4 linked regions of the Homo sapiens genome follow. The protein of the gene in region 4 interacts with the protein of the main gene of each other region in a pairwise test. Each region holds a gene or a part of one and is shown on either strand. Other genes may lie near its edges.

Region 1 (7,419 bases), on a different chromosome or scaffold from region 4:
TTCACATGTAAATAAAAATGTAATTTCTCAGTAAATATCAACAGACATATCCCACATAAACAAAAGCTCTTGGGGGTCCTCAATACTTTTTGAGAGTGTTAAGGGGTCCTGAAAACAAAAAGCTTGAAGACTGCTGCTCTCTACCACGTTAGCTCCCCTGTGGCGGAGGATGACTGTCCTAAGAGCTCATAGGCACGGGGCAAGGGGAGCCTGGCTGTCAGCTGCCTGGGCTTCTAGTCTTGTGCTTTTTGCACACCAGTCCAGGGAACGAAGACCACTGGCTTTAAGATGCTTCCCCAGCTGTCCCCAGACTCTGCCAGCAGGGGATTCTCTGGTCTGAGCTTAAGTTGTGTTCTCCCAGCCAGGGATGCCCCTGCCCTTTGATGTCTCCTTGCTGCCACACATTTAGCCGCCCTCCCCATGCCAGCTTGGGGGGAGGGAAGCAGTGAGGGTAGGGAGGTGGCTGGGGCAGCTGGGCAACTGTCCCCACCCGTCCCTGGCACGGCTCTGCCCAGTACACAAAGAGCAAAGTGAATCTTGTCCCCACCCCTGCAGCTGAGGGGCTGGAGGAGGAAACGGGGAGGCCCACACAGAAGGGGTGGCCACCGTGGGGCTGTCCATCACTCAGGGCTCTCAGAGGGAGTCAACCCAGAAACAGACAAAGAGGGTGAGTCTGGGCTGTGTTCTTAGCTAGTGAGAGGTCCCCTAGAGGATGAAGTAGATGATGCTAATGAGGATGACTGGATGTCACACCCATGATGCTATTAGGTCCTCATAATAGCATAGTGAGGTGGACAGCTAGTACCTGACCCATCTCACAGATGAACATACTAATGCCTAACAAAGCAGAACGACTCACGCTGGGTCCCAGAGCTGGCCAGTGGAAGCACTGAGACCTCCACATACTGAAGGCATGGACTATTGACCGCTGTTGGTATTGGTCTCATCATTGACTATCATTAAGTGTTGGCTGTTTGCATGCTTCCTGCCCAGTGGCAGGTTCAAAGAAGCCCGCAGGAAGCGTGCTCCTTTCTTTCCCAGGGCCCGCAATTGGGCTGGAAGATAGAGCAACAAAAAGCGCCCATGTAACTCATGGGAACATTCATGTGTGCTGAATGGCAGGTGAAGGTGCCACAGAGAGGCTGAGGATTTCAGAGGGCACCATGAACTGGAGTGAGGTCGCAGAGCAGGTGCCATTGGCTCTTGGCCTGTTTGGGTGGGTGGCATTCAGAGAGGTGGAAGGTCAGATGCACTGTTCACGCCTGTAATCTCAGCACTTTGGAAGGCCAAGGTAGGAGGATCACACGAGGCCAGGAGATCAACGCTGCAGTGAGCTATGAAGCTGTGATTGCACCACTGCACTGCAGCTTGGGTAACAGAGTGAGACCCTGTCTCTAAATAATTAAATAAATAAAATAAAAATAAAACCGGAGAAGTGGAGAGGGATTGGAGGTGGGCTTTCACAGAGGGAGAAACGGCTTAAGTACAGGCCAAAAAGTGAGAAGGCTGCAGACAGGGCTGGTAGGGGGAGGGGGAAATTTGGCACACCCAGCTAAAGGTCCTTCTGTGTCTCCTTCTCCAAGGAACCCAAGACCTTCACTTGGTTGGTGTGAGCACTCCAGGAGGCAGGCACCCTCCCTCAGCCCTCAAGCAAGCAAAAATGGGTTTAAAAAAAGAAGGAGAAGAAGCAGCAGCAGCAGCCGCCACAGAGCTTGTGACAGCTACAGCCTAAGGGCAACAGGCAGGGGAGACCAAGGACCAGAAAGAGCAGAGGCTTTTTCAAAGAAAGAGATCCCTCTCCCAGCACCCAGCGATGGCGGCAAACCCCACCCACAGTGCCTGCTAAGAACAAGTCCCACGTGAGAACAACATGGCCCCCCGAGATGCCCACAGGGACCCCGAGATGCCTGCAGTGCTTGGCTCTCCCGCTGGCCAGCTGCCCACCTGGCTCAGGCCCAGTACTCGTGAGTCAGCCGATCAATCCCAATGTTGCCAGGATGATGGGGGCGGGAGTAAGGGCCCTGGGGGAGGGCAGGGGTGGGCACTGCAGGCGAGCTGTCTCCCACATCTGGCACCTGCACACAGCTGAGGCCGAGCTGAGAGGATGCTTCTGTGGGCTCCCCCTCCTCCCGGCACCCCTCCCCTCCTTTCACTGTCCTAGGACACTCTCTGGCTGCTGGAGTCTTAGGCAAATATTTAAAGGGGCAGCAAGGGGGTGAGGAGGGTGGTGGGAGCAAACACTTCCCTCCCTTTCTTCCTCCCTGCGCTTCTCAGGGGCTCTCAGTTCAGATGCCATGCTGTTATGCAACCTTGGGGCTGAAGGCCCTCCAGATGGAGAGGGGGACAGGGGAACCTGCCAGCTCATGACCGAAGGGCAGGGCCCAGGTGGGAGGGGGCTGGGGCAGGGGACAGGAACTGGGGTGGCATGTTAAAGGACAGGAGGCTGGTTGGGCATGGTGGCTCACACCTGTAATCCTAGCACTTTAGGAGGCCGAGATCACTTGAGCCCAGGAGTTCGAGACCAGCCTGGGCAACATGGTGAAAACTCATCTCTATAAAACAAGCAAAAATTAGCTGGGCACAATGGCATGCACTGGTAGTCCCAGCTACTTGGGATGCTGAGGTGTGAGGATCACCGGAGTCCAGGAGGTCAACGCTGCAGTGAGCAGTGATCTCGCTACTGCATGCCAGCCTGGGTGATAAAGTGAGACCCTGTCTCACAACAAAACAAAACAAAACAAAACAAAAGGATAGGAGGTTAAGGGAGCGAGCCCAGGCCTGGACTCTGCCACAGTCACCTGAGTTTAGAGGTGAAGGGACTTTAGAGACCACCTGGCCCAAGGAGTGAAAGGGAACCTGAGAGAAAGGGTGAGCCAGCCCAAAGTCATTGGCAGATTTGACCTCGTAAATACATAGAGATGGCTTTGGGAAGGCACTAGGAAAGACAGAGAAAAGAGAAGGAGACAGTCCTCAAAGCTGATCGTATTTGGGTGAGTATTATTCTCAGGGCAAATTTAGGATCAGAGGATGCAGAAAGGGGAGTCTAGAGGGGTAGAGTGTAGACCACAGGGTGAGTGAGCTGATTCGAGGATGGGGAGACTGGGAGCCCACCAGTGACCAGAGCCAGCCCTGTTCAGGGCTGTCCGGGCAGAAGAAAGCAGTGTCAGACCTGGAATCTGCCATCAGCACAGCCTGCAATTGACAGACAAGCCCAGAGCAAAGAAGGAAGCACTGCACATGAGTAAGAGCTTGCCACCAGTGGGGACAGAGTTTCCAGAATTAGGAAAATAATCACTGGGGGCAAGTTTGAGGTTGGTACCAGATATGTGGGAGGAGGCAAGGTAAGGGAAAGAGTACTTGAAGTTGGAACTGGTCCTTGCAGGGAAATGCACATTTATGAAACCCCGAAAACTGATGTCAAAGCACCTCCTGCCTTGGGCAGAGTCCTCTCAGAGTCTACAGGTGCTGCCTCCAGAACCCTCTTCCTGGAGCGCATCCCTATGTATCTAGAAATTCTGCTGGGAAATATGATGGTCAGACCCTTGGCCACCTGAAAGGTTCAGGGTGGTAGAAGAAAAAGGAAAGCCACAGGGCAGCAGGGGCAGGTGCCAGCAAGGAAGGCAGGCACGCCAGGAAGACACCCATGGTGAGAAGTGCAGATGGCCCGAGGGCAAGTTTGCTCAACTCACCCAGGTTTGCTCTTGCTGGGGCCAAGAGGACTCATGTGCCAGGGCCAAGGGCCCTTGGGGGCTCTCACAGGGGGCTTATCTGGGCTTCGGTTCTGGAGGGCCAGGAACAAACAGGCTTCAAAGCCAAGGGCTTGGCTGGCACACAGGGGGCTTGGTCCTTCACCTCTGTCCCCTCTCCCTACGGACACATATAAGACCCTGGTCACACCTGGGAGAGGAGGAGAGGAGAGCATAGCACCTGCAGCAAGATGGATGTGGGCAGCAAAGAGGTCCTGATGGAGAGCCCGCCGGTGAGTGTGGTTGCGTGTGTGTATGTATGTGTGCGCGCGCACATGTGTGTGATGGGCCCTGCCTCCTCTATCCTCCCTGGCCTGTTTCCTTATCCAGATCCATTCACTCAACTAACCTAGGACTGTGATAAGTCAGGATGGGGACACCAAGACCACTAAGCCAGGGACCCTTGGGGAGCTGTTTGTGGGCCAAGAGCCACTATAGGGGTCCGTAGAAAGGGCTGTCCGTAGACAGCCCTGAGTCAGAAGCCATGAGAAACTTCAGAAGTCAGGGGACACTTCTCAGAGAAAAACCACATACGAGCTGGAGCCAGAATAAGGAGGAGCTCGCCCGGTGGAGAAGGAGGAAGGCATTCCAGGAAGGAGGGAGACTCTGTATCACCGCATGGAGGTGATCACTTGGGGAGAGAGAGGGGCTGACCATGGCTGGGGGAAGCAGCAGGGAGAGACAGGTGAAGCAGGCTCTCTTGGGTCCCTCAAAACTAGACCCTGCTTCTAAGCTTCTATGTGTCTATGGGTTTGTTAGAATCCAGGCCACCTCCTCCAAGAAGCCTTCTCTGATCTCCTCAGCCCTTCCCTGTCCATCCATCGCATCGGCTGTCCAGCCCTAGGCAGCCGTGGGAGGGTGTTCAGCTTGTATAGGGAGAAGAGGGGACAGCCTCATGACCTCATGCCTGTCTCCTTGCCTGCCCCACCGTGTCAGGACTACTCCGCAGCTCCCCGGGGCCGATTTGGCATTCCCTGCTGCCCAGTGCACCTGAAACGCCTTCTTATCGTGGTGGTGGTGGTGGTCCTCATCGTCGTGGTGATTGTGGGAGCCCTGCTCATGGGTCTCCACATGAGCCAGAAACACACGGAGATGGTGAGAGGTGTGGGATGCACAGCAGTGGGCACAGGACATGCCAGACAGCGGGGCTAGGTGGGATGGGCGATAGGAAACTGTCCAAGGGGAGTGGAGGGGAGGAGGCAAGGGGCACAGCTAGAAGGAAAGAGGCACGAACCAGGCAGCAACCCAGCTCAGGCTTTTCCACAAGGCCCCTGCCCCGCAGCAGGACAGCCAGCTCCCTCCAGCACCTGGTTCCACTCAGCCTCCCTGAACTCTTGGGAAAGAGGGAAGCGCATTTGAGTACAGAGGCCTGAGTATGGGGATGGGTACCACTGGCTGAGTAGGAAAGGGGAAGACCAGGTGGCTCCATGCCCTTTCCCCAGGTTCTGGAGATGAGCATTGGGGCGCCGGAAGCCCAGCAACGCCTGGCCCTGAGTGAGCACCTGGTTACCACTGCCACCTTCTCCATCGGCTCCACTGGCCTCGTGGTGTATGACTACCAGCAGGTGGGTATGCCCAGACCTCCTGACCCTGGGACCAATGACAAGGCTCTGCTAGAGCCACCCAGCTGGGCCACTTCATCCACATCCATCTCTCCCTCTCCTCCAGACCTTTTTTGCCTGAGCCCCAGATTCTAGTATGACTCCCGTGCCCAACCTAGAGGGAGGTGGCTAAGGACCTGGGTCAGGGAGAGAGCAGGGCAGGGACCCCCGAATGATCTCCAGCATTCTGTGCCTAGCTGCTGATCGCCTACAAGCCAGCCCCTGGCACCTGCTGCTACATCATGAAGATAGCTCCAGAGAGCATCCCCAGTCTTGAGGCTCTCACTAGAAAAGTCCACAACTTCCAGGTGTGTGTGTGTGGGTGAAAAGAGTGGGCTGTCTCCCTCCCAGGGCTGCTGGGAGGAGTGTCCGAATGGTGGCTATTTGTCACCTGTAAAGCACTGTTCCTCATTGGCTGCCAGCTGACTGCCCCTCTCCTATTCCCCTGCACGACTCCTTTCCTTCCCACCCCACTGCCAAGCTGCTGGGCTCAGCTGAGTCCACTCACTACCTGGTGGCTTCTGACTCTAGCACAGCCCCTCTTTACTGATGAGAAAACTGAGGCTCAGAGAGATTGCCTGATATACCTGAAGTCCCACAATAAGGGCTGCACATGGGATAGAAACTCACTTCCTACATTCCAGATGGAATGCTCTCTGCAGGCCAAGCCCGCAGTGCCTACGTCTAAGCTGGGCCAGGCAGAGGGGCGAGATGCAGGCTCAGCACCCTCCGGAGGGGACCCGGCCTTCCTGGGCATGGCCGTGAGCACCCTGTGTGGCGAGGTGCCGCTCTACTACATCTAGGACGCCTCCGGTGAGCAGGTGTGATCCCAGGGCCCCTGATCAGCAGCGGAGGAGCGCTCGGGCCACCTGCCCGGGCTGTGGAGGAGCGCTCGCGCTGACCAGGCGCTGGGGCGTCCACTGAAGCGGGGTCATCCAGGCAACTCGGGGGAGGGGAAGCTCACAGACCGGTACTTCCCACTCCCCTGATTCTCTCTGTCCATCCTCAACATTCCTTTGCTTCACAGGGTCAGTGGAAGCCCCAACGGGAAAGGAAACGCCCCGGGCAAAGGGTCTTTTGCAGCTTTTGCAGACGGGCAAGAAGCTGCTTCTGCCCACACCGCAGGGACAAGCCCTGGAGAAATGGGAGCTTGGGGAGAGGATGGGAGTGGGCAGAGGTGGCGCCCAGGGGCCCGGGAACTCCTGCCACAACAGAATAAAGCAGCCTGATTGAAAAGCAAAGGGTCTGCTTCTGTCTTCCTGCAGGGCGCAGTCCTGCCCTGGCGGGGGCCGGCCAAGAAGGGAAGGGCCTTGGGAGAGCAAAGTGGGGTTTGCCATTCGCCCTCTGTCCCAGGGCGCTGGGGCACTGGGTCCACCTCGGCGGGGGAGAGGGGCTCGCAGGGAGCCATCCACGGGCTTTCGGCGCCCTCCAGCGGCGTCTCCGGAGGAGGGAGAGACACCAAGACAGCGAGAGAGACAGAGCGCAGAGAGCGAGACGCGAGAGAGCGAGGGTCCAAGAAGGGGAGATAGGGAGACGCGGGCGGAGAGACCGACCCGAGGCGGGGGCGCGGGGCAGGGGCGGCGCGAGGACCTGACAGCGTGTCCCGCGGCGGGGCGGGGGCTCGGCCGCGCGCCCGCGGGGGAGGCCGCCGCTAGAGGGCACTTCAGGAGGGACAGCCCTCCCGGCACCCCGGGGCCCGAGCTCCAGCCCCGGCCTCGCGGCCCGCGGCCCGCGGCCCGGGCGGCCCGAGCCCCCTCCCCGGGCGCGCGGCTCTCCGCCTTCCCCGCCCCGGCTGGCGCGCGGCCCGGCCCGGCCGAGCACTGTCCCGGCCCCGAGGGGGGCAGAGCTCGGGCGAAAACCCGCCCTCCAGCGAGCTCATTTCCCTAAAAAGGGGGGGGGGAGTCGGAGGGAGGGAGGGAGGGAGAGAAAGAAAGAGAGAAAAAGAAGGAAAGGGAGAGGGAGACGGCTGGAGCCCGAGGACGAGCGCGGAGCCGCGGACCGAGCGGGGGGCGGGAGACAGGAAGGAGGGAGGCGAGCAGAGGGAAGGGGAAGAGGTCGGGGAGCGAGGGCGG
Region 2 (8,269 bases), on a different chromosome or scaffold from region 4:
CATACCACATCGATAAAATAAAGTAGAAACATCACATAATCATCTCAATAGAAGCAGAAAAAAAACCCCACCATTTGACAAAATCCAACACCCATTCATGATAAAAAACACTCAACACACTAGGAATACACAGGAAATTCCTACCCTGATAAAAGGCATCTACAAATAATCCACAGGCAACATCATACTTAATAATGAACCGCTGAATGATTGTCTCCTGAAACAAGGAACAAAACAAGGATGTCCACTCTCATCACTTCATTCAACATTGTACTGGAGGTTCTGGTACAGTCAAGGCTAGAAAATAAAAGGAATCCAGATTAGAAAGGAAGATATAAAATTATCTCTATTTACAGGTTTTATAATCTTATGTTGAAGATTCCACTAATAAAACTATTAGAGCTAGTAAATAAGTTCAACAGAATTGTAGGGTGTAAGATCAATATACAAAACAGTTGTAGGAGTAGCACAGTGTCTCACACCTGTATTCCTAGCACTTTGGGAGGCTGAGGTGGAAGGATTGCCTGAGCCCAGGAATTCAAGACTAGCCTGGACAACACAGCAAGACCCTGTCTTTGCAAAAAATTTAAAAATTAGCTGGACATGGTGGCACACATCTGCAGTCCTGGCTACTTGGGAGACTGAGGTGGGAGGATCACTTGAGCCCAGGATTTTGTGCTGAGCAGCAGCCTGGGCAACAGAGCAAGGCCCTGTCTCTAAAATGATAATAATAATAATAACAAAATACTTTTTTTTTCTGAGACAGAGTCTTGCTCTGTCACCCAGGCTAGGGTGCAGTGGTGCAATCTCGGCTTACTGCAACCTCCACCTCCCAGGTTCAAGCAGTTCTCCTACCTCAGCCTCCCGACTAGCTGGGACTACAGGCGCATGCCACCACACCTGGCTAATTTTTTTGTATTTTTAGTAGAGACAGGGTTTCACCGTGTTAGCCAGGATGGTCTAGATCCCCTGACATCGTGATCCACCCGCCTCAGCCTCCCAAAGTGCTGGGATTACAGGCGTGAGCCACCGCACCCGGCCAATAAAATAATTTTTAAAAGGTTAAACATAGAGTTACCATCTGATCCATCAATTCCACTTCTACATGTATACCCAAGAGAAATGAAAACATATGTCCACACAAAAACTAGTCCATGAGGGAGGCCGAGGTAGGCGGATCACCCAAGGTCAGGAGCTCGATACCAGCCTGGCCAACATGATGAAACCCCATTTCTACTAAAAATACAAAATTAGTTGGGCGTGGGGGTGGGCACCTGTAATCCCAGCTACTCGGGAGGCTGAGGCAGGAGAATCGCTTGAACCCAGGAGGCAGAGGTTACAGTGAGCCAAGATCATGCCATTGCACTCCAACCTGGGCAAAAAGAGCGAAATTCCATCTCAAATAAAACAACCTTGTACATGAATGTTCACAGCACCATTATTCACAGTAGCCAAAAAGAAAAAATAACACAAATATCAACTACTGAACAGATAAAAAAATGTGGTGTAATGAGAAAAACACTGAATTGTACGAAAAACCTTCCCCCAAACTTGGAGGCAGTTGAGAGACCAGAGAATGACTCAGGCAAGTCCAGCTTGGCGAGTAGATGAGTTTGAGGACTTACATACGGGACACTCCTTGACAGCAGCAGGACAGTGCTAGAGATCCGCGCCACCTCCCATCTCTAAGCCATTTTTAAGCTAATTTTCTAGCTCTTTGCCTACTGCGTGTATGCAGTGGGACTGTTTTCCTTGGTAGATTCTCAGATCCTCTCCAGGATGTTTGAGTTCTCAGGAATATCTGCTCCTAGGCTGGGCACCATGGCCTTGGCTCACCACCCAGCATTCAGGATTCAAGCAGTGGATATACACCTCCAAGTAACCTGATGGGGGACCTGCCACACTACATGTGGTATAGCCATACAACAGAACATTATTCAGCAATAAAAATGAATGAAATACTGGTTCATGTTCCAACTAGGATGAGCACTGAAAACAGTATGCTCAGTGAAAGAAGCAGACAGAACAGGTCACATATTGTGTGACTCAATTTATATGAAAGGTCAAGAATAGGCAAACCCACAGAAGCAAAGAGTAGATTCAGAGTTGCCAGGGGCTTGGTGGAGGGGGAGATGGGAAGTGACTGCTAATGGGTTCAGGATTTTAGTAGGGGAGGGTGATCACAATATTCTGAAATTAGATAGTGGTCATCATTGCACAACTCTGAAGAAACTAAAATGCACCTTATTGGACTCTTTCAAAGGGTGGATTTTATGGCATACGAATATCTCAACAAAACTATTCTTATTTTTTAAATTTTTTTTTCCAAGGCAGAGTCTCACTCTGTTGCCCAAGTTGGAGTGCAGTGGCGCAATCTCGGCTCACTGCAGCCTCCACCTCCCAGGTTCAAGTGATTCTCGTGACTCAGCCTCCTGAGTAACAGGGATTACAGACATGCACCACCACACCCAGCTAATTTTTGTATTTTTAGTAGAGACAAGAGTTTCACCATGTTGGCCAGACTGGTCTCGAACTCCTGACCTCAAATGATCTGCCTGCCTCAGCCTCCCAAAGTACTGGGATTACAGGCATGAGCCACCATGCCTGGCCTCAATAAAGCTATGTTAAAAAAAAAAAGGCAGACAATTCAAATGTCCTTCAAAGAGTGATGGGTAAGTAAACTGTGGTACATACATACCACTGAATACTACTCAGCAATAAAACCTATCTGTGTTGACGTATATAGCTTAGATGAATCTCTTCTAGGGAATTTTACTGAGTTAAAAAAAAAAAGGCAATCTTAGAAAATTACAGACTGTGTGGTCTATGAACTGAATGTTTGTGTTCATCCCAAACTGATATGTGGAAACCCTAATCCCCAACGTGATAGTATTTGGAGACGTGCCTTTGGGAGGTAATTAGGTAATTAAAGCCCTCATGATGGGATTAGTACTATTTTTTTTTTTTTTGAGACAGAGTCTTACTCTGTCACCCAGGCTGGAATGCAGTGGCACGATCTCGGCTCACTGAAACCTCTGCCTCCTGGGTTCAAGCAATTCTCCTGCCTCAGCCTCCTGAGTAGCTGGATTACAGGCGCATGCCACCACACCCAGCTAATTTGTTTTGTATTTTTAGTAGAGATGGGGTTTCACCATGTTGGTCAGGCTGGTCTTGAACTCCTGACCTCATGATCTACCTGCCTCGGCCTCCCAAAGTGCTGGAATTACAGGCGTGAGCCACCACACCCAGCCGCAGGATTAGTTCACTTATAAGAAGAAACAAGACCAGGCATGGTGGCTCATGCCTGTAATCCAAGCACTTGGGGAGACTGAGACAGGAGGTTCACTTGAGCCCAGGAGTTTGAGGCCATTCTGGGCAACATAGGAAGACCTTGTCTCTATAAAAAATGAAAAGTTAGCTAGGCATGATGGCACGCATGCCTGTAGTCTCAACTATTTGGGAGGCTGAAGCGGGAGGACTAGTGGAGCCTGGGAGATGGCGACTGCAGTGAGCTGTGATTGCGCCACTGCCCTCCAGCCTGGGCAACAGAGACCGTGTCTCTAAAAATAATAATAATAATAAAATAAATAAAAATAAGAGAGAGTTTACTTTCCCTCTCTGCTTTCCGCAATGTGAGGACACAGCAGGAAGATGGCCATCTGAAAACTATGAAGATGGTCCTCCCCAGAACTTGACTCTGCTGGCATTCTGACCTCAGTCTTGACAGCTTCCAGGACGGTGAAAAATAAATCTCTGTCGTTTAAACCACCCAGTCTATGATACTCTGTTATAGCGGCCTTAACTGATTAAGACAGTATGATTCTATTTTTTTTTTTTTTTTTGAGACAGAGTCTCACTCTGTCTCCCAGGCTGGAGTGCAGTGGCACGATCTCTGCTCACCGCCACCTCCGCCCCCCGGGTTCAAGTGATTCTCCTGCCTCAGGCTCCCGAGTAGCTGGGACTACTGGCGTGCACCACCATGCCCAGCTAATTTTTGTATTTTTAATAGAGACAGGACTTCGCCATGTTGGCCAGGCTGGTCTCGAACTCCTGACCTCAAGTGATCAGCCCGCCTTGGCCTCCCAAAGTGCTGGGATTACAGGTGTGAGCCACCGCACTCAACCAGTATGATTCAATTTATATAAACTTTTTGGAGGCCAGGCACGGTGGCTCATGCCTGTAATCCCAGCACTTTGGGAGGCTGAGGTGGGTGGATCACTTGAGGTCAGGAGTTTGAGACCAACCTGGCCAACATGGCGAAACCCCATCTCTACTAAAAATACAAAAATTAGCTGGGAGTGGTGGTGCATGCCTGTAATCCCAGGTACTCGGGAGGCTGAGGCAGGAGAATCACATGAACCCGGGAGGCAGAGGTTGCAGTGAGCAAAGATCGTGCCACTGCACCCCAGCCGGGGAGACAGAGTGAGACTCTGTCTCAAAAAAAAAAAAAAAAAAAAAAAAAAAAAAGGTGTGATTTGGGTTTCTAAGGATTCCCAGTGTGTCCTCATCGGTGAGGACCTCTGATGCATGGAGAGGTAAGTGCAGTGGAGAGCATATCCACAAAACAGAGATGAGGCTATTGGGATGCTGGAGATTACGTGACAATTTATGAGTGACACACAGCCAAGAACAGAACCAGGACTGGATGCCCATTTCGTCATTCAACAAATATTTACTGAGCACCTACAATCCCTCAAAAACTGTTCTAGAGTCTAAACCGATGGGGTCGTAACCATGCCCCCAGCCCACTCCCTTGCAGGAAAGACCGTGGCTCCAGGTCCCCCACATTACTGATTAAAAAAAAACTCCAGTGCTCTGGCCATGGGCGTGAAGGCAAGGACAGAGACCGGGAGGATAATGAGGCCAAACAGCTTTGGCCCACCGCCACCGGGACTGGCAAAGAGGCCAGACCTCCTAATGCTCTTCCTTGGAGGAAGGAGCAGTGTTTGATTTGGTCAAGAGGCCAAGACTAAAAGTAAGAGGATAAACACGAGCTGGCTGGACGCGAGGCTGGCTCAGGGCAGTGCTGTCGGGCTGAGGATTCAGGGAGCTGGTGTTGTCCAAGCTTCACATTTGCGGAAACTACAACTCCCAGCGTGTCCCGCGGCCGCCCGAGCGGGCGTCATGTGATGCATGCTCACGTGTCTCCGCAGCCGGCTCGGGAAAGAATCCCCCAAGGTAGGTGGCCGGAGACAGGCTCTGGAGGGTGGAAGTGTTAGATCCCCGAGGTCTGTGGAGCCCCTCAGTCCCCGCCACCGCGGAAAAGCTCAGACCCTTTCCCTGCAGGGGTCCAGATCCTGGCGTCCTCGCCCCACGCCCGTCCCTCTGTTGCGCCAGCTCTGCCGCGCCTTTACCCAGCCAGAGGGTCTCCACCCAGTCCTAGGCCGGGATCGGGTCCCGGAGCTCCTCCCCAGGTTACCCCACAGTAGCCCACCCTTCTCGCTCCAGGCCTGGGAATCGCCCCGCCCCGGCCTCCTGGCCCGGGTGCGCCCTGGCTCACCTCACAAAGCCTCACCTCACAAAGCAGCCCACCCTTTCTATCTCAGGGCTCCAACCCCAGGCTGGACTGGGAGCACACTCCAGTTGGGATCTGAGGGGCCTACATCGCTGGCCTGAGCATGTGGGCATCAGGCTTCTATTCTGGCTCTGCCAGCTACCCACTGTGACCTTAGTCTAACCTCTCCCTCCTGGGCCTGTTTTCCTATCTGTCCTGAAGCTCCATTTCATGAGTAAGCGTGAGAGCCGCTCAGTTTCCTCCAGCTCTGCTGAAGCCAGCACAGAAGTAGCCCAAACTCTTCCCTCTGCTGACAGCAAATTTTAGGCAAAGTCTTGAGAAAGAAGAAATTGGGTCCAGAAAGGGAAGTGAGGAGAATCAGATCCCAGACCTTTGGGGAGAAGGAGCAACCGCCTCTGGCACAGCCCATCAGGGAGAAAGAGCAGGTAAGGTGCAACAATGAGCTGAGTAATTTGCCAGTGAGCAGTGGGGGTGCCGAGAGGTCTTAACCAAGGCAGAGAATCTGCAAGAGGTGGGACCCCCAGCTTCTGAGTTCCACGAGGACCCCAGCCTGCACTCTCATGTGGGTGGCAGGAGAGGCTGGAGGATGGTGCAGGACTCGGGCAGGGGTGCCCAAGGGAAACATTTTGGTTGGAGAGTCAGGAAGCCGCACCAAGCCTTGTGACCTTGGACGAATCACTCTGTAGACCTCTGTCTCTGTGACGTGAGCAGCGGGGAGGAGATGGTCACAGCTCTGGCAGTGGTCACTTTGCAGGGTTCTTTCTCTAGCTACACTGGAAGCCTGGGAGTCCCAAGACTCTGCCTTCGCTGCTCACTGCTTTGATTTTGCTGAGTTGCTGGTTGGGTGACAGGATGTGTAAGAGGATGTGTAAGCCCTGTGACATCTGACAGATCTTTCTGGGTTTCGAGCCAGCAGAGGAATGTTTCCTCTGGTGCCATGTCCCTTGGTTCCATGCTTGATAACAGATGGCTGAGAGCACATGAACTTTCACCCTTTCCCTCTCATGAGTGGATGGTCCCCAGCTTTGTTTGTCCATCATCAGGAGGAGCAATGGGAAGTAGTCCAAGGGGTCTTGTTAGTCATTTTAAACCCCCAGTGGGCTGAAGGCATCAGAGAGGGTGGCCCAATGGTTAGGGCAGTCATTATGGCTGAATATGCTCAGTTCCCTTTTTTTCCCTCTGGGCTATAAAGACTAAACCAGGCTGGGGGCTGTGGCTCACGCCTGTAATCCCAGCACTTTGGGAGGCCGAGGCAGCAGGATTGCTTGAGCCCAGGAGTTCAAGACCAGCCTGGGCAACATAGTGAGACCTCCTCATCTCTACAGAAAATTTAAACATGACAGGCGTGGGGGGCTTGTCACGTGGGAGAAGTCACATGGGAGAAGAGTTGAGAATTGGCCTGAATTTTGAAAGGCCAATTTTGTTCCCCACAGGAACAAAAAATTTAAAAAGTTGGCCAGGCGTGGTGGCTCACGCCTGTAATCCTAGCACTTTGGGAGGCCAAGGGGGATCACAAGGTCAGGAGTTCAAGACCAGCCTGGCCAACATGGCAAAACCCCATCTCTACTAAAAATACAAAAATTAGCCAGGCATGGTGGCGGGCACCTGTAATCCCAGCTACTCAGGAGGCTGAGGCAGGAAAGTCTCTTGAACCCGGGAGGCAGAGGTTGCAGTGAGCTGAGATTGTGCCATTGCACTCCAGCCTGGGTGACAAAGCAAGACTCCGTCTCAAAAAAAAAAAAAATTTTAAAAGTTAGCTGGCTGTGGTGGCACACACCTGTAGTCCCAGGTACTCGGGAAGTTGAGGTGGGAGGATTGCTTGAGCCTGGTAGATTGAGGCTGCAGTGAGCTCTGATTGCGCCACTGCACTCCAGCCTGGGCAACAGAGTGATACCCTGTCTCTAAATAAATAAAGACTAAACCAGGGAGGGAGTAGAGATTAAAATGGAGTTTTGTATGAGTACCGTGAAATCGGGACTCAGGAATGAGGAGACTCTAGGAGAAGGAGTCTTTGGCAGATTTCGCCAGCCTGGGTGGTAACCAGCTAATAGCAGCCTCTGGGGAAGACTGCCCTGGCTCCTCCCTGCCCCCTTAGTTCCTGCCCTTGAAATCTGGCCTTCTTCCTGCTCTTTCTCCCATTAGCTATCCCAGGGCCTCTGTGCCCATTGTTACCTGGCCAATAGCACCAGGCTGTGGTTTGAGTTTTGTTTGTTTGTTTGTTTTGAGATAGAGTCTCACTCTGTCGCCCAGACTGGAGTGCAGTGGCGTGATCTGGGCTCACTGCAAACTCTGTCTCCTAATTTCGGGCGATTCTCCTGCCTCAGCCTCCTGCACAGCTGGGATTACAGGGGTGCACCACCACACCTGGCTAATTTTTGTATTTTTAGTAGAGATGGGGTTTCACCATGTTGGCCAGGCTGGTCTCAAACTCCTGACCCCAGGTGATCTGCCCACCTCGACCTCTCAAAGTGCTGGAATTACAGATGTGAGCCACCACACCCGGCCCAGGCTCTGGTTTTGATCAGTGTTCTGCTCCCTGCTTGCTTAGGGCTGGAGAGTCTCAGGCATGGTGGTGGTGGGCAACATGGGAAGGGGCATCTGCAGAAATAACAGCAGCAGTGACCATTTATTGAGTCTTAAACCCTTACTGATATTAACACACGACCCACAGGAACATATGATGTAAAGGCCTAAAGGGGCGAAGTGACTTGCCCAGGGTCACACAGATAGGCAGCGGAGGAGTCAGCATTCTGA
Region 3 (7,617 bases), on a different chromosome or scaffold from region 4:
CCCACAGTCTCCCTTAGTATGTTCCACCCAAGATGGGATTCAGCTGAACATACCTGGTTTACTAAACCCAGAAAATTAACGAAAACTGGCCGGGCGCAGTGGCTCACACCTGTAATCCCAGCACTTTGGGAGGCCAAGGCGGGCGGATCACGAGGTCAGGAGATCGAGACCATCCTGACTAATACGGTGAAACCCCATCTCTACTAAAAATACAAAAAATTAGTCGGGCACGGTGGCGGTGGGCGCCTGTAATCCCAACTACTTGGGAGGCTGAGGCAGTAGAATGGTGGAAACCTGGGAGGTGGAGCTTGCAGAGAGCCAAGATCACGCCACTGCACTCCAGCCTGGGTGACAGAGCGAGACTCTGTCTCAAACAAACAAACAAAAATTAACGAAAACTAAATTGAGTAGAAAATTATAGTCAAACACCATAAATGAATAGAATAGATTTTGATTAATTCCTAAAGTAAGCCATTCAGGAAACAGCTGTAGTATCTGCAAAGAAGTCTTCGCCCACCAAGTAATCCCTGTAAATAAAAACATCCTACCTGATTAGATCTGGTTCGGCACCCTCATTCTTAAAGGATGCCAGAAGTAGTCTCTCTCGAGTTACAAGATCATCCAAGAGGTTCTGTCTTCGGTCCCCTTCAAGCTGTGTTCTGCAGATATCTTGTTAAGGTTCAATGGTGAATAAATGACCTCGTTTTAACTATTACATTATTAAGTTAGCTCTTCAAGTCAGTTGTGGCTTTTACAGACTGTAATCACTACTACCCAGAAGGGATGCGCACCACTCTTGCGTTTTTCCTGCTCTGACCTTCACCTTCACCAGGCCGTCAGGTAAAGGACCTTGGCAGGACCATCGCAGAGGCACTTATAAACACTGACGTGGATCATGACACAAGTTTTTCATTGAGAAATATACCAGGTAAATATTACTTTCCTCCCCGTGACCAAACTTATTTACTTATTTTTGAGACAGAGTCTCGCTCTGTCGCCCAGGCTGGAGTGCAATGGCGCGATCTCGGCCCACTGCAACCTCTGCCTCCCGGGTTCAAGCAGTTCTCCTGCCTCAGCCTCCCGAGTAGCTGGGCTTACAGACGTGCACCACCACAACCGGCTAAGTTTTGTATTTTTATTAGAGACGGGTTTTTGCCATGCTGGCCAGGCTGGTCTCGAACTCATGACCTCAGGTGATCTGCCTGCCTTGGCCTCCCAAAGTGCTGGAATTACAAGGCGTGAGTCACCACGCCCAGCCCCAGTGACCAAATTTAAATGACTTCTCCTGCCAATGGTGCAACCTGGCTCAGTGATTCCTTAGGTTTTGAGTTATATGTGTGTGTCAGTGTTCCAGGGCATTTTCCTACATATTAATACCCTAAGATGCTCTGTTTAAAAAAGTGGGGGCGCTGGGGGAGAGAAGTTCTCTATATTGCTCTCTTTCTTCCATGTTAATATCTATTAACACACCTAGGATATTTATAAAGTGCTACTTTATGCAACAGATTTGCTCTATAAATTGTTACCATCAGTTCACTATTTAAATACATTGCATGATTTGTAAAGAAAATTACAAAGAGAATCATTTTAATGTGTGAATCTAGCAAACACGCTAGACTAGGAGCCCCAGAGGCAGAGTTGTAGCCCTATTCCACTATCTATGCTCTTGAACCAGTTATTTCACCTTTTGGGATCTCTCTTTCTTTATATGTAACACTAAATAGTCTCTAACATCTTTTCCACAACAATTCATAAGTGATGGTTAAAAAAAAAAAACCAAACAACCATCCTTCTGGGAAATGTAGTCTTTGGAAAGAAACCTACAATTCACCAATAGGTGGACGAGAATGCGGCGCGTGCGCATGAAGCAAAAAGGGAAGTGGCGTCTGTCAACAACCGGCGCCACTTCCCTTGGACTAAGTACAAAGTTTTATATACTAGCTTTCTTGATGCAAACTACAAAAGTGGTTTTTTTTTTTTTTTTTTTTTTTTGGAGACGGAGCCTTGTTCTGTCTACAGGCTGGAGTGCAGTGGCGCGATCTCGGCTCACTGCAACCTCCGCCACCCGGGTTCAAGCGATTCTCCTGCCTCAGCCTCCTGAGTAGCTGGGACTACAGGCACGTGCCACCACGCGCAGCTAATTTTTTGTATTTTTGGTAGAGACAGGTTTTCACCATGTTGGCCAGGATGGTCTCGATCTCTTGACCTCATGATCCGTTCACCTCAGCCTCCCAAAGTGCTGGGATTACAGGTGTGAGCCAGTGCGCCCAGACACAAGTTTTTGTTTGTTTGTTTTTAGGCTGAACTGTGTCTATGTGTGTGGTATGTTAAGAAACACAGAAGGGCTGGACGCGGTGGCTCAACGCCTGTAATCCCAGCACTCTGGGAGGCTGAAGTGGGCGGATCACAAGGTCAAGAGATGGAAACCATCCTGGCAAACACGGTAAAACCCCGTCTCTACTAAAAATATAAAAACTAGCCAGGCGTGGTGGCGTGCGCCTGTAGTCCCAGCTACTCGGGAGGCTGAGGCAGGAAAATCGCTTGAACCCGGGAGGCGGAGGTTGCAGTGAGCCGAGATCGCGCCACTGCGCTCCAGCCTGGTGAAAGAGCGAGACTCTGTCTCAAAAAAAAAAAAAAAAAAAAGAAAAAAGAAACACAGTAAAGGATATGTTTGGAAACAACTTCTGCCATAAAATGAATGAGTGGAGAAAGCTAACAAACACTTTTAAAATATATCTGGCCAGGTGTGGTGGCTTACGCCTGTAATCCCAGCAGGTCAAGGCAGGTGGATCACGAGGTCAGGAGTTCGAGACCAGCCTGACCAATATGGTGAAACCCCATCTCTACTAAAAACACAAAAATTAGCTGGGCATGGTGGCGCACAATCGCAGCTACGCAGGAGGCTGAGGCAGGAGAATCACTTGAACCCGGGAGGCGGAGGTTGCAGTGAGCCGAGACTGTGCCACTGCACTCCAGCCTGGGTGACAGAGCAAGACTCCGTCTCAAAAAAAAAAAAGAAAAAAGAAAAGAAAAGAAAAGAAATACACACTAAAACAAGATACCACTTCCACCTATCAGATTAGGAAACTGAGAAGACAGTTTTGGAAAGGGACAAGGAACCAGACACTCTCATACATTCTTTCCTTTTCTTTTCTTTTCTTTTTTTTTTTTTTGTTTTGTTTTGTTAAGATGGAGTCTTGCTCTATCATCCCAGGCTGAAATGCAGTGTTGCAACCTTGGCTCACTGCAACCTCCACTACCTGGGTTCAAGCAATTCTCCTCTCAGCTCCCCAAGTAGCAGGGATTACAGGTGTCCACCACCACACCCAGCTAATTTTTGTGGGTTTTTTTGAGAGACAGGATTTCACCATGTTGGCCAGGCTGGTCTCAAACTCCTAATCTAAAGTGACCCTCCTGCCTCCCAAAGTGCTGGGATTACAAGCATGAGCCACTTCACCTGACCTTATACATTCTTTCTTTATTATTATTATTATTTTTTGAGACAGTGTCTCCCTCTGTCGCCCAGCCTGGAGTGCAGTGGCATGATCTTGGCTCACTGCAACCTCCAGCTCCAGAGTTTAAGCAATTCTCCTGCCTCAGCCTCCCAAGTAGCTGGGATTACATGCACATGCCACCATGCCCAGCTAATTTTTGTGTTTTCAGTAGAGATGGGGTTTCACCATGTTGTCCAGGCTGGTCTCGAACTCCTGACCTCAAGTGATCCACCCACCTCGGCCTCCCAAAGTGCTGGGATTACAGGCATGAGCCACCATACCCGGCCACCTCATACATTCTTGATAGGAATGCAAACAGGTTCAACCAACTGCTAGACTGCCTTCTAAATACCTAACAAAATATAAAAGGTACAGTCTTTCAACAGACATTTCTTCCTCAGATACAGTCCTACAAGGACTTAGAAGCAAGGATGTCCACTGAACCATTATTTATAATAGCCACATTGGAAATATCAATAAGTAACTAGTGTATGTAAACAATGGAATGTTTTGCAGCCTTAAAAAAAGAATAGGAAAGCTGTTTAGGGGGCTGATAATGATAATTAACATTTTTGAGCACTTACTAAGTGTTTACATGAATTATTTGACATGGAATAATCTACAAAATATAACATTAAACCAAAGGAGGGGAAAAAAACAGCAGCAGCAAGGAGCTAAACAGTGAGTAGTGTGCTCCCACTTTGTTAAAAAAAAATCCTAACTATATATGTGTGTATATACACACAGAAAATTTCTGATATATAAACATTGCCTCTAAGGAAGGACAACTGAGGATTAAGGGTATAAGAGAGACTGATGTTTCACTGAATATTGTTTCCTAATGTTTGTCTCTATCATCTGCTAATTAATAAAAACACAAGCTTCAGAACCATATGTATAATATAATCCCTTTATAGTCAAAGGAATTTTATGTTTACATATGCATATATTTCAAGCCTAGAAAAGTCTGAGATACTAGCTACCAACCATTAACACTTAACTATAAAGAATGAGATGAGACAGGATAGAATAAGGAAGAGAAAGAGGAGTCATTGGTAATAACTAATGAGAAATGTATCAGTAGAAAGTATAATATTTTTTGTAATAAAAACAATAAAGGTACATTTTAAAATCAGCAGATACTAGTTACAGATTTAAACTTACGTCAAGAAGGAGCTAACAAAGAACATCAGTTTCAGAAACAGTAAAACTTGATGACTATGTTTTGTAGATGAGTAACCAAAGAACAGAAACCCACACAGTTGATGCTAGAAGAGGCCTTAAAGATCCCAGTTCTCTTGTTTTGCTGACCAGAAATTAAGGGTGAGCATGGCTAAGTCACTTGCCTGGGTTAACAGCCATGCTAGGTGACAGCTCTTTCAACCCTAGCTCATGGCTTTTCCACCAAACATTCTGCAGACTTCTCCACCTTGAGATGCTGACTTAACTTTGCCACTTCTTAGAATCCTGATAAAAACAATACTGGGAGTACGAATTCAGAATATTCCCAGAGACTCTGTAAATCTGGAAAACAATCCAATTAGGAACATGCTGCCTCTTTGTTTTATATTTTAATCTACGGAGAGAACAGAGCATAAGGAGATGGGGAGGAGGGAGATGGAATGAGAATAAATTGATTAATGAACCATCTGCATAGCACCCTTGCTATGTAAGGGTTGTTATTAGTAAGAGGTCAAAGGATCATCCAGGAAACAATCTATACAGCATGTATGTGGACAGGTGCGTAGCAGTTGGGTAAAGTAGGGTAGTGGGGAAACAGTGTGCCTGAGTGATGCTAAGGACAAGTAGAAAGTAGGACACACAGGCCAAGCGCGGTGGCTCAAGCCTGTAATCCCAGCACTTTGGAAGGCTGAGGCAGGCGGATCATGAGGTCAGGAGTTCGAGACCAGCCTGGACAACACGGTGAAACCCCATCTGTACTAAAAAAATACAAAAATTAGCTGGGTGTGGTGGCACACGCCTGTAGTCCCAGCTACTCAGGAGGCTGAGGCAGGAGAATCGCTGGAACCCGGGAGGCAGAGGTTGCAGTGAGCCAAGATCGTGCCACTGCACTCCAGCCTGGGCAACAAAGTGAGACTCCATCTCAAAAAAAAAAAAAAGTAGTACAGCACACAGTCAGTGGCCAGTGCTGGGGAACCTCCTCTTCCACCAACCTGGTGAATAGCCAAGGAAGAAGATAAGAGAACAGACAGATAAAGAAAAGGAAGAGAAGAGCTAACTATCATAGTACTTTGTCCTTGGCTATGCTGATTGTACATGTAATTATAGCCAATTCATGGATATGTAAGGTTGTAAATAAAACTGGATCCCCTGTAGTCCCAGCTACTCGGGAGGCTAAGGCAGGAGAATGGCGTGAACCCGGGAGGTGGAGCTTGCAGTGAGCCAAGATCGTGCCACTGCACTCGAGCCTGGGTGACACAGCGAGACTCCATCTCAAAAAATAAATAAATAAAAATAAAAATAAAACTGGATCCTGATTTCATATTACTGATACCTACTACCAGCATGCATAAGTCCAGCTTCTCTGCTGTAGCCTGGTGAGCATTTGAACCACAGATGGAGCGGGGTAAATATGCAACTGGATCCACAGGTCACCCAATCCCACTCCAGCTCCTGGATTTTCTCTTATATTTGGTAGAAGGCTTAAGAATTTAGGCTGGGCACAGTCGCTCACACCTGTAATCCCAGCACTTTGGGATGTTGAGGTGGGTGAATCACCTGAGGTCAGGAGTTTGAGACCAGCCTGGCCAACATGGCAAAACCCCATCTCTACCAAAAACACAAAAATTAGCCAGGTGTAGTGGTGCACACCTGTAATCCCAGGTACTTGGGAGGCTGGGGTAGGAGAATCGCTTGAACCTGTGAGGCGGTGGTTGCAGTGAGCTGAGATCGCACCATTGTGCTCCAGACTGGGCAACAAGAGTGAAACTCCGTCTCAAAAAAAAATAGAATTTAGGTAAGCCTTATTTTGTGAAAGAGCTGCTCTGGCGAAGGAAGAAGTTTGCAGATAATTAATTCTCCATGCCAAAAAAGAAGAACTGCAAGGGAACAGTTTAAGGTTCTAGAGGTCAAAAGACTTTTCTGGCTTTCTTTTTTTAAGTCAACAAACTCTAATAAATATTTATGATGTACCAGGCCAAGTCCTTACCTTCCTCAAAGCACTGATCACATTTTGCAAGTACTATTTTAATACCATCATTGTTTGTGAGTTTTGACATAACCATCATGCATGATTAAAAACTCCACAAAGAAAGGATGACCTGTAAATTCTCAATGGTAGCTGAAATCTTTACAATAATGATAAAATAATCAATAGCAGCTAATCCTCAAGGAGGACTTAGTATATGTGAAGCACCCTGTATGCATATAATCTCATCCTTACACAACAATCCTTTACGCCAGGTGGACTTCTAGCATCCCATTCCACAAATGAGGCACAAAGAGGTTAAGTAACTTCCCCAGGGGTGTTGGTAACCACCTTTTATTCAACACCCACCATTATGGGGGGCTAGTCCTGTGAAGAAAAAAGATTTTCTTCAACTTGTACAATAACCTGGCAAAGTATGATTATTCCTACATTACAGATAATGAAACTAAGGTCCAGAAAAGCTGAACTGCTGTTTGGCCTTGGTAAGTGGCAGAGCTGGTCTTCAATCTCAGTTCTGTCTGCTTTCAGAGCCGATGTTGTTCCCACGATACCAATGGCACCTAGACATTCAGGTTTCGTGGACCAGTAATATGTCCAAAAAAACTAGGGGGGGGTGTAACTTATATAGAATTACCAATTATACATTTTGCCAGGTATGGATGTTCAAGAAAAAAAAAAAGAAACAAAACTATCTACTTTTACTATCATGGTGAAAAAGCAAGGAGATTTTAACACCAAAAACTAGAAAGAACCATGTAACAGTTCTGTATAAATCAGAAAACAGGCTTGATATGGTGGCTCACACCAGTAATCCAAACATTTTGCAGGCCAAGGTGGAGGATCGCTTGAGACTAGAAGTTCGAGACCAGCCTGGGCAACATGGCGAGACCCCATCTCTACAAAAAATTAGCTGGGCATGGTGGCATACACCTGGACCCCTAGCTACTTGGGAGG
Region 4 (7,613 bases):
AGATCCCCCTTTTGCTCCTCCTTGGGTGTCCACAGGCTCGGTGGGGCCAAGGTGGTCAATGGCCATGGGGACATCATAAGCCCCCTTCTTCACACCCAGGCCCATACCCCTGGTGCTTGCAAGTCAGGGCTTCCCAAATCACCCTTAGGGCCAGGAGGGGCCCCACAAAGGCTGACTCCATACAGGCCTCAGCTCTCAGGTACATAATGCTCCTGCACCCCAATCCTGAGGCCACGCAGTGCATCCCATATTGGAGGATCCCCTGGCAGGTGTCCTGGAAAGTAAGGAGGGGCGGGGAAGAGTAGCAAAGGCCTGGTGACTGTGGGATGAGGGACACTCAGGGAGTGCAGAGCAGGAGGGACCAGAGAGCAGAAATGCACCTGGGCCTTCAATGCTCCTGGGCTCTCTGGTTCCCCACAGGGAGCTCTCCCTGCCCTCACTCTCCCCACTAGCAAGGCCACTTTCCAAGTCTTCAGCAACCAAAACTGAACAAGCACTCCATTGACCATTCACCTTTCCTTTCTACCTCAATGTCCAAGGCTTAGATCTGATCAGTGCTCCCCAAACCCAGAATTTTCAAGAGGGCTTAGAAAAATAAATAAATAAATAAGATGCCTGGGCCCCATTCTCAGAGTCTGATGTAATAATTGGGACCAAGGCAATGATCCCATATTATTACGAAGATCCCCTAGGGAATCTTGCCGCAGATTCAGGTGGAAAAGGGTAAGAGTTATCAGCCAGACTTTTGGTTTACATTTCCTGGTAGGGGGACAACACACTCGGATGATGATGATCGTGGTGGTGGTGGTTACTGGCATAAGGTACTGCACGCATCTACCTTTTCACCTACAGGACATTTGCACCAGCGTCTTGTCACTCAATGCCCCCATGGCCTAGGAGGTCAGCCCTCCGCAGGCCCCCTTTCAGAGTTCCAGGCACTCTGGCCATGTCATACTGCTAGAGGGAGCAGCACGGAGCCCAGGTAGGGCTGTGGGCAGGGGCTGGGCTCTTTCAGGTCGGGGAGAACCAGAGCCTGGCCCAGGAACAAGCCCTTTTCAATCAGGATTCCGGGCGCCTTGTTTCCAGCTTCCTTCCCTCCTTTCCTCCACTTGCTGGTAACATTCCAACATCCTGGAGGGAGAACCCAGGGAAGGATCAAAAGGAATCCGTACTGTGCCGATTGTCACTAAAGCCCCTTCTAAGCATCCTGTGTCTCCAACTCAGAGCCCGACACTGGAAGCACTGACCTATGGAGCCAGACAGGCCATGTTTATCCCCAGTTCTGCCCCTTACAGGTTACAAGATCTTGGACAAGCTTCCCAACCTCTCTTCCCCAGTTTCCTTACAATTGAGTTAAGTACATTATAAAGGGTTTGCAATGATGCCTGGCTGAAAAAAGTGCCACATCAATGTCTGTGGTTATTATTATAATGCCAGTGCAGCCAAATATACTCCTACAATTAAGGTGACTTGAGTTCAAGATAGAGTGGCCAACGGTGCCAGGCAGGCCAGCACCTAGCAACCTGGGAGGCCCTGCCTGAGGCTCCAGCAACAGCACAAGCTTGTTGTTAGAAGGTTGTCCTTGGCTGGTGGGAATAAGGGAAGCTGCTGGGGACCAAACAAATGTCCAAGCAGAGAACAAAAGCCCAGCCAGCTCACCAGCTGATAATTAAAAATAACCAGAGGCCGAGGTGTAGATGGCCATCTCCAGGCAGAGGTCTCAGCCCGTAGGTTGCACCCCGAACTCTCCAGCCTAGTGTGTCCTTACCCGAGGGTGTTGCTAGGTTTCATTCTAACCTCACCTGTCCAGTAGTTCTGTAGCGGAGCAGGGCAGGTCCTACTTCTTCAAAAGCACTCAGTAAAGGTGGGGAAGTCCTGAGCAACCTCCAGTGACTTTCTGGGGGAGCTCCCGGTTACCTAGCCCACCAGGTCCTCCCTTCACAGCAGCAGCTCAGGAGCCAGGACTGACTTAGCTACTTGCGTCCCCAAGGCCCTTTGCGCTGGTAAACTCTCCCTGCCACACTCCCAACCCCCATCCTTCCTTCAGGGGAGGCTGGCTGCATCCCCACTTCCTGGAGTACCTTCCCAGATCTCCTGGGACAGGTCAACAAACTTAGTCTCACTTTAGGTTTTCCAAATGCCTTGTAACTGGGCTGCGTAGCCTTTGTAATTTTCCATGATTCGGGAGGTTCTCGCGGCTGGGAGCTCCGTGAGGTCAGGCATTGCCTTGGGCGCGATGCGCTCATCTTTCCCGCGGGACCACTGCACAGGTTCGCACGGAGGGAAGGGCTGCGCAGCCTCGAAGGCGAGCCCTGGGTGCTCCCTGCCCACAGGGCTCACCTCGGGCCGCCGTGCTATCCTTTCCTTCCCAAACAAGCCACCAGGATTCCTCGTGATTAGGGCTGCCACCAGGGCGTTCTGAACAGGATTCAGGGCCACCGCGCTGTGCTCTACGGCGGAGCGGGCGAAGGCCCTCCTCTGCCACAAGCGCTCAGGGCTCTCGGCGCACAAACTTTCTGGACATGGGGCAGTTTTTCAGCTGGACCCGTGCTCGAGCAGAGCGCCCACTGCCAGACTGGAGCACTTGACCACTCAGGGTGCCACTGTGCCGAGCCGGGCAGGACAGGATGAGGTGGACCGAAGCGCCCAGGTGCCCCGCCTTCCCCCCAACCCGGCACGGAGCGCAAGCGGAGGAGCCAGACCGGCTCCTCCCGGGCGGGTTCCTGCCGGTGCCGGGTGTCCAGGAGGCCCCGGCCCTGATCGCCGCCAGCGGGTCGCCGCAACGGGGCCTGAGTCGCGAGCAGTCCCTCCCCGAGACTGACTGGCCGTTCGCACCTCGCCCGGGGGCCCTCCAGCAGCCTGGCCCAGCGGTCCCCGCCGCGCCGGCCGTATCGTTCCCGGCATCTCAGCGAGTTTCCAGTTTCTCCCTACCTCAGTAGGGAACCAAGAAGCAGAAGGAGTTCAGGTAACACTGCGGGACTGCAGAGATTTCCCCCAAACAAAGAAGCCAACCGACAGCACTCCCAGTCCTCCTCCCCAAAGAGAAAAGGCGCACCGGTGCTCCCAGGCGGGGGCCGTGGAGGGCAGGCGGACTAGGAGCCAGCTTTGGGGACCCCGGGGGACTCTCTTCCACCAACTGGCTAGGGACTCGCAGGACCACCTGCCCCAACCTCGCGATGCCAAGCCAACAGGGGCGGCGAGGGCTCTCGGCCGTGCGCAAGGGGTCCCAGGCGCCCAGCACTCTCCCAGCACCCCGGGAGGCGCCCTGCCCGGCTGGCCCCAGCGCTCGACCCTCGGGCGCACTCACCTGCCGCGCCGCGCTCCTCACACCCGCTTTCACCTCCGGGCGGGGCAGGGGGCATCGGCGGGTCCCAGGCGCCCAGGTTCCCCTCCCCAGCCCGGACCCCGAGCCGGGACCCTGGTACCGGCGCCGCTCACCTGCCGCGCTCCAGGCGGCGCTCCCCGCCCCTCGCCCTCCGCCTCCGCCTCCGCCTCCTGCTTAGCTCGCGCCTACTCGGCCCGGCCCGCCCTGGCTCTCGCTTTAATCTCAGGAGGCGGTGTCCCAGGGTCCAGGGCGACACCCCCAAGCGGGTCGCGGGTCACCCTGGGCGGGCGGGGGCGGGGGCGGCGGGAGGAGGCGTTTCCCAAGGGAAGTCCGGGACGGGTTCCCTGCCTGGCTCAACCCCGGCTGCGGAGGGACCCATAAGGGACTCTGGGGCGCTTCCCGGGCCCGGCCACAGCGGCCAACCTGCCCCTCTCCGGTCCGCGGCGCAGCGCTGCCCGAGGGCTCGAGTTTGGGTTAAGGAAGGGGATTCTGGGGAGCGCTCCTGGAGTCCTGGGTGAGCCCCCGGAGCTGCTACCTCACGAGCTCCTGTAGGCGGCCGGCCCCGTCTTGGCCTCCGGGGAACCCACTGTAGCCTCTGGGCAAGGACCCAGGGTAGGCCTTGGGGACTGCTGGCCCAAGCACGAGTGGCGGGGACACAGCGCCGGACGCCCAAGACCCTCCCCAGTCCGCCTAGGCTGGCATTTCTTGGCCCCCACCAGCGTCCGGTGGAAAGTGCTCCCCCGGATGGTCCCAGGTCTCTCGGCACCACCGGCCAGGGCGGGAGTGAGGAAGTGGTGGGACACACCTCAGCCAGGAAGACGTGGCTGTTCCCGGGCACTTGAGAGGTTCTTTCTAATGTTTGCAATTGTGGGGGCTCAGAATTCACCAGAATTTAATAGGACCGTAGACCAGAATTCATCACCCCAAGTAGGACTGGAGGAGACCAGAATCTGCTACCCCAACATAGTCCTCTTTGGCACATTGATGATTTGGAACTGGTTATGTTGAGGAACTGCAGACACCAGAGTACCTCTGAGAAAATGCCCTTTTGTAAAGGAAATTTGCACCTATAAAGGAAATGTTTGTTAGTCAGCAGATCTGTACCAGGAAGAGAGCTGTTCCCGGACAACTTTTATCACCTGGGAAACTTTTATCTGCCTCACACGGCAACCTGCGTTCACCAGACACCTCCTCTCCTCACGCTCCCCTCACTCCTCCACCGCTCCCCAGAAGCCTCAAACCCCCATTTCTTTCTGTCACTCAGAGTGACAGATAAGCCTCAATCATCGGGCTGCTGCACCTTTTTTTTTTCGTGTGTTTTTTTTTCCCCCAGAAGGGGTCTCACTCTGTTGCCCAGGTTGGAGTGCAGTGGCTCAATCATGGCTCATGGCAGCTTCAACCTCCCAGGGCACAAGTAATCCTCCCACCTCAGCCTCCCGAGTAGCTGGGACTAGAGGCGTGTGCCACCACGCCCAGCTAATTTAATTTTTTGTAGAGATGGGGGTCTCCCTATGTTGCCCAGACTGGTCTCCAATCTGGGCTCAAGCGATCCACCTGCCTTGGCCTCCCAAAGTGCTGGGATTACAGGTGTGAGCCCTCGCACTGGACCCCTCACTCACCTGGCCTGTTCTTTAAGTCTCATATTCTTGTGGGATTCCCATCTGTGAGTACATACATTAAAACAGCTTTTCTCCTGTTCATCTATTTGATGCCAATTTAATTTGTAGACTAGCTGAACGAACTAGAAGGGTAGAGGGGAAGCATGTTTTCTCCTCCCCTGCATAATATACAAATCAACATGATTTGCTTTAAAATGAGGTGGAAGCAGAAAAAAGCCCCATTCAGTCCCATCCCAGGCTGCCTTGGCTCACTGCTCCCTTCCTGGGAAGCTCTCCCGGAAGCCTCCTGTGGGGCAGGACTTTCCTAGTAAACCCTTCCCTCTCACTCCCTCCTTTGGCACCTTTTGTGGTCTGCTGGTGGCACCCACAACAGGGATTGTCCCCAATATGCCCCAGCCCTCCCCATCCCCCACACTGCCCTGCGCTCTGCCCCAGTGGGAAACCCTCAAAGACCCTCTCCAGCACATAGGGCAGGTGCAGTTGTCTTTCAGCGGCAACTCACTTATTTCTGTCTTGACAGTGTGTTTGGTGCCTACTAATTCCACCCAGAAACCAGGGAGTAAGTGCTGCCGCAGACTCAGGCCTCTTGGAGTGGTTGTTCATTCACCATTTATTTTTCCTTTTATATTAATAATCAGGGTTCTCCAGAGAAACAGAAACAATAGGAGAAATACAAATATATACACACATATACATATGCACACACATGTATATACACACATCTATATTTCTATATATTATTTATAAATATTATAAATATCTTATATATTATAAATACATATAAATATATACATAAACATGTATTTTATATGCATAATATAATACAGATATGATATATATTATACACAGCTTATATGTAATAAATATTATTTATAATATATATAAAGATTTACTATAAGAAATTGACTCATACAATTATGGAGGGTGAGAAGCTCTACAATCTGCCATCTACAGACTGGAGACCCAGGAAAGCTGGTGTTGTAGCTTTCAAAGTCCTGAGAGCCAGAGAACTAGAGAGCAGATGGAACAGATTCCAGTCCAGGTCTGAAGGCCTGAGAACCAGGAGTGCTGAGGGCAGGAGAGGATCAAAGTCCAGCTCACACAGTCAGGCAGAGAGCAAATTCAACCTTCCTCCCCTTTTCTGTTCTATTCAGGCTCTCAACCGATTGCCCAAATTGAAGGCAATCAGCATTACACAGTCTTTTCAAACATTAATCTCTTCCAAAAACACCCTCACACGCAGACACCCAGAAATAATGTTTAACCAGTTACCTGGGCATCCCATGACCAAGTCAGCTTGACACATAAAATTAACCATGGCTGGATGCAGTGGCTCCCACCTGTAATCCCACCATTTAGAAGGCTGAAGTGGGAGGATCTCTTGAGCCCAGGAGTTTGAGACTAGCCTGGACACCATAGCAAGATCCTGCCTCTACAAAAAGTTTATTAAAAATTAGCCAAGTGTGGTGGTGCGCACCCGTAGCCCAAGGTACTTGGGAGGCTAAAGTGAGAGGATCAGTTGAGCCCAGGAGTTTGAGGCTGCAGTGAGCTTTGATTGTGCCACTGTACTCCAGCTTGTATGACAGAATGTGACCTTAGTTTTATCTAAGCATGAATATATATGCCACCATAAGTTGACCCCTTGTCGACTTCACACCTACACATCTCCTTACACCATACTTTATCTCTAAAGACAATAGCAAAGTAATAATTTTGCCTAATGTGATAAAACTCTTCTGCATACAACCAAAAAATGCACTAAGCCCTTCCCCAGAAGTGGATGTAAAATTCTCCAGTGTTTACACTTCTCCTTGGTATTCCATAACTTAAATACCATAATGTAAAATTAACAATACTTAATACAATGATATAAAGTCAATATGCCTTAAGTTATGTAATAAAGGAATATGAGAGAAAAGACAACAGAGATATATACTGTATATACAAATATGTGCACAAATGTATTTAGAAAAAAATAATGAGAAAATACTCGTGACAATCTAATGCTTTATAACAGGTTGCATGGGCAATAGCTGGTGTTTGTAACTGTCTTCTTCCACTACCCACTCTGCGTTCCCTCTGCCTTCGGGAAGCATGACAGCTGGTCATGGTTCTTAACCTGATGGAGTGATACAAACCTTCATTCCTCAAGGGTCTGGGCCATTAATAGCCCTGCCTGGATTGTGTTGTAGTTTTCCATTGACCTTAATCACAAGCATGGTAAAACTAAAAGATGCCCTAAGGAATCGTTGTATTCCAGACACACTCTTCCTTACCTTCCTGGTGGAGTAGAAGTAGTCTATAGCTTCTCCTTGGTAGTCCAGATGGGTCTCCCCAGCCAATGCATAACTCTCTCTTTGCCTTTTGATTCAGAGGCATGTGGAGCTCAGCGTGGCCAGGTGGCAGTCGTAAATTCTAGTTTAATTGAATCATTGTTGTGTCTCCTGGTGGCAGCATTCCTCCCTCCGGAACTAAGACCTCTAGGTCAGCAGAGCGTAAAGTCACAGAAACAGCAAGCGAAAATTTTGCTAGTGGGCCACTTGGAGTAATAGTGCGTGGTGCCACTCCCATTTCCACCCCTTGATTCCTGGACCAGTGAATCCTGGCTATGGGAGAAACAGCACCGCATATTGGATGCTGATTTGGAGCATACACAGCTTTCTGGAGAA

Evidence for each region.
Region 1: the proteins of TMPRSS2 (region 4) and SFTPC interact in binary tests that used the Homo sapiens proteins (3 or more experiments, as listed by UniProt).
Region 2: the proteins of TMPRSS2 (region 4) and SLC38A7 interact in binary tests that used the Homo sapiens proteins (3 or more experiments, as listed by UniProt).
Region 3: the proteins of TMPRSS2 (region 4) and STX8 interact in binary tests that used the Homo sapiens proteins (3 or more experiments, as listed by UniProt).

What each region holds. Positions count from the first base shown.
Region 1 is NC_000008.11:22,157,892-22,165,310, forward strand, and holds SFTPC (surfactant protein C), read left to right. Parts: upstream 1-3,906; 5' UTR 3,907-3,937; coding exon 3,938-3,979; intron 3,980-4,682; coding exon 4,683-4,841; intron 4,842-5,188; coding exon 5,189-5,311; intron 5,312-5,544; coding exon 5,545-5,655; intron 5,656-5,991; coding exon of another isoform or gene 5,992-6,009; coding exon 6,010-6,150; 3' UTR 6,151-6,168; exon of another isoform or gene 6,169-6,374; 3' UTR 6,375-6,588; downstream 6,589-7,419. UniProt on the Homo sapiens protein: Pulmonary surfactant associated proteins promote alveolar stability by lowering the surface tension at the air-liquid interface in the peripheral air spaces.
Region 2 is NC_000016.10:58,681,626-58,689,894, reverse strand, and holds the start of SLC38A7 (sodium-coupled neutral amino acid transporter 7), read left to right. Parts: upstream 1-5,124; 5' UTR 5,125-5,178; intron 5,179-5,563; exon of another isoform or gene 5,564-5,716; 5' UTR 5,717-5,940; intron 5,941-8,269. UniProt on the Homo sapiens protein: Symporter that selectively cotransports sodium ions and amino acids, such as L-glutamine and L-asparagine from the lysosome into the cytoplasm and may participates in mTORC1 activation. The transport activity requires an acidic lysosomal lumen.
Region 3 is NC_000017.11:9,544,624-9,552,240, forward strand, and holds part of STX8 (syntaxin-8), read right to left. Parts: intron 660-7,617; coding exon 549-659; intron 1-548. UniProt on the Homo sapiens protein: Vesicle trafficking protein that functions in the early secretory pathway, possibly by mediating retrograde transport from cis-Golgi membranes to the ER.
Region 4 is NC_000021.9:41,504,643-41,512,255, forward strand, and holds the start of TMPRSS2 (transmembrane protease serine 2), read right to left. Parts: upstream 3,517-7,613; 5' UTR 3,439-3,516; intron 3,424-3,438; exon of another isoform or gene 3,363-3,423; coding exon of another isoform or gene 3,308-3,362; intron 1-3,307. UniProt on the Homo sapiens protein: Plasma membrane-anchored serine protease that cleaves at arginine residues. Participates in proteolytic cascades of relevance for the normal physiologic function of the prostate.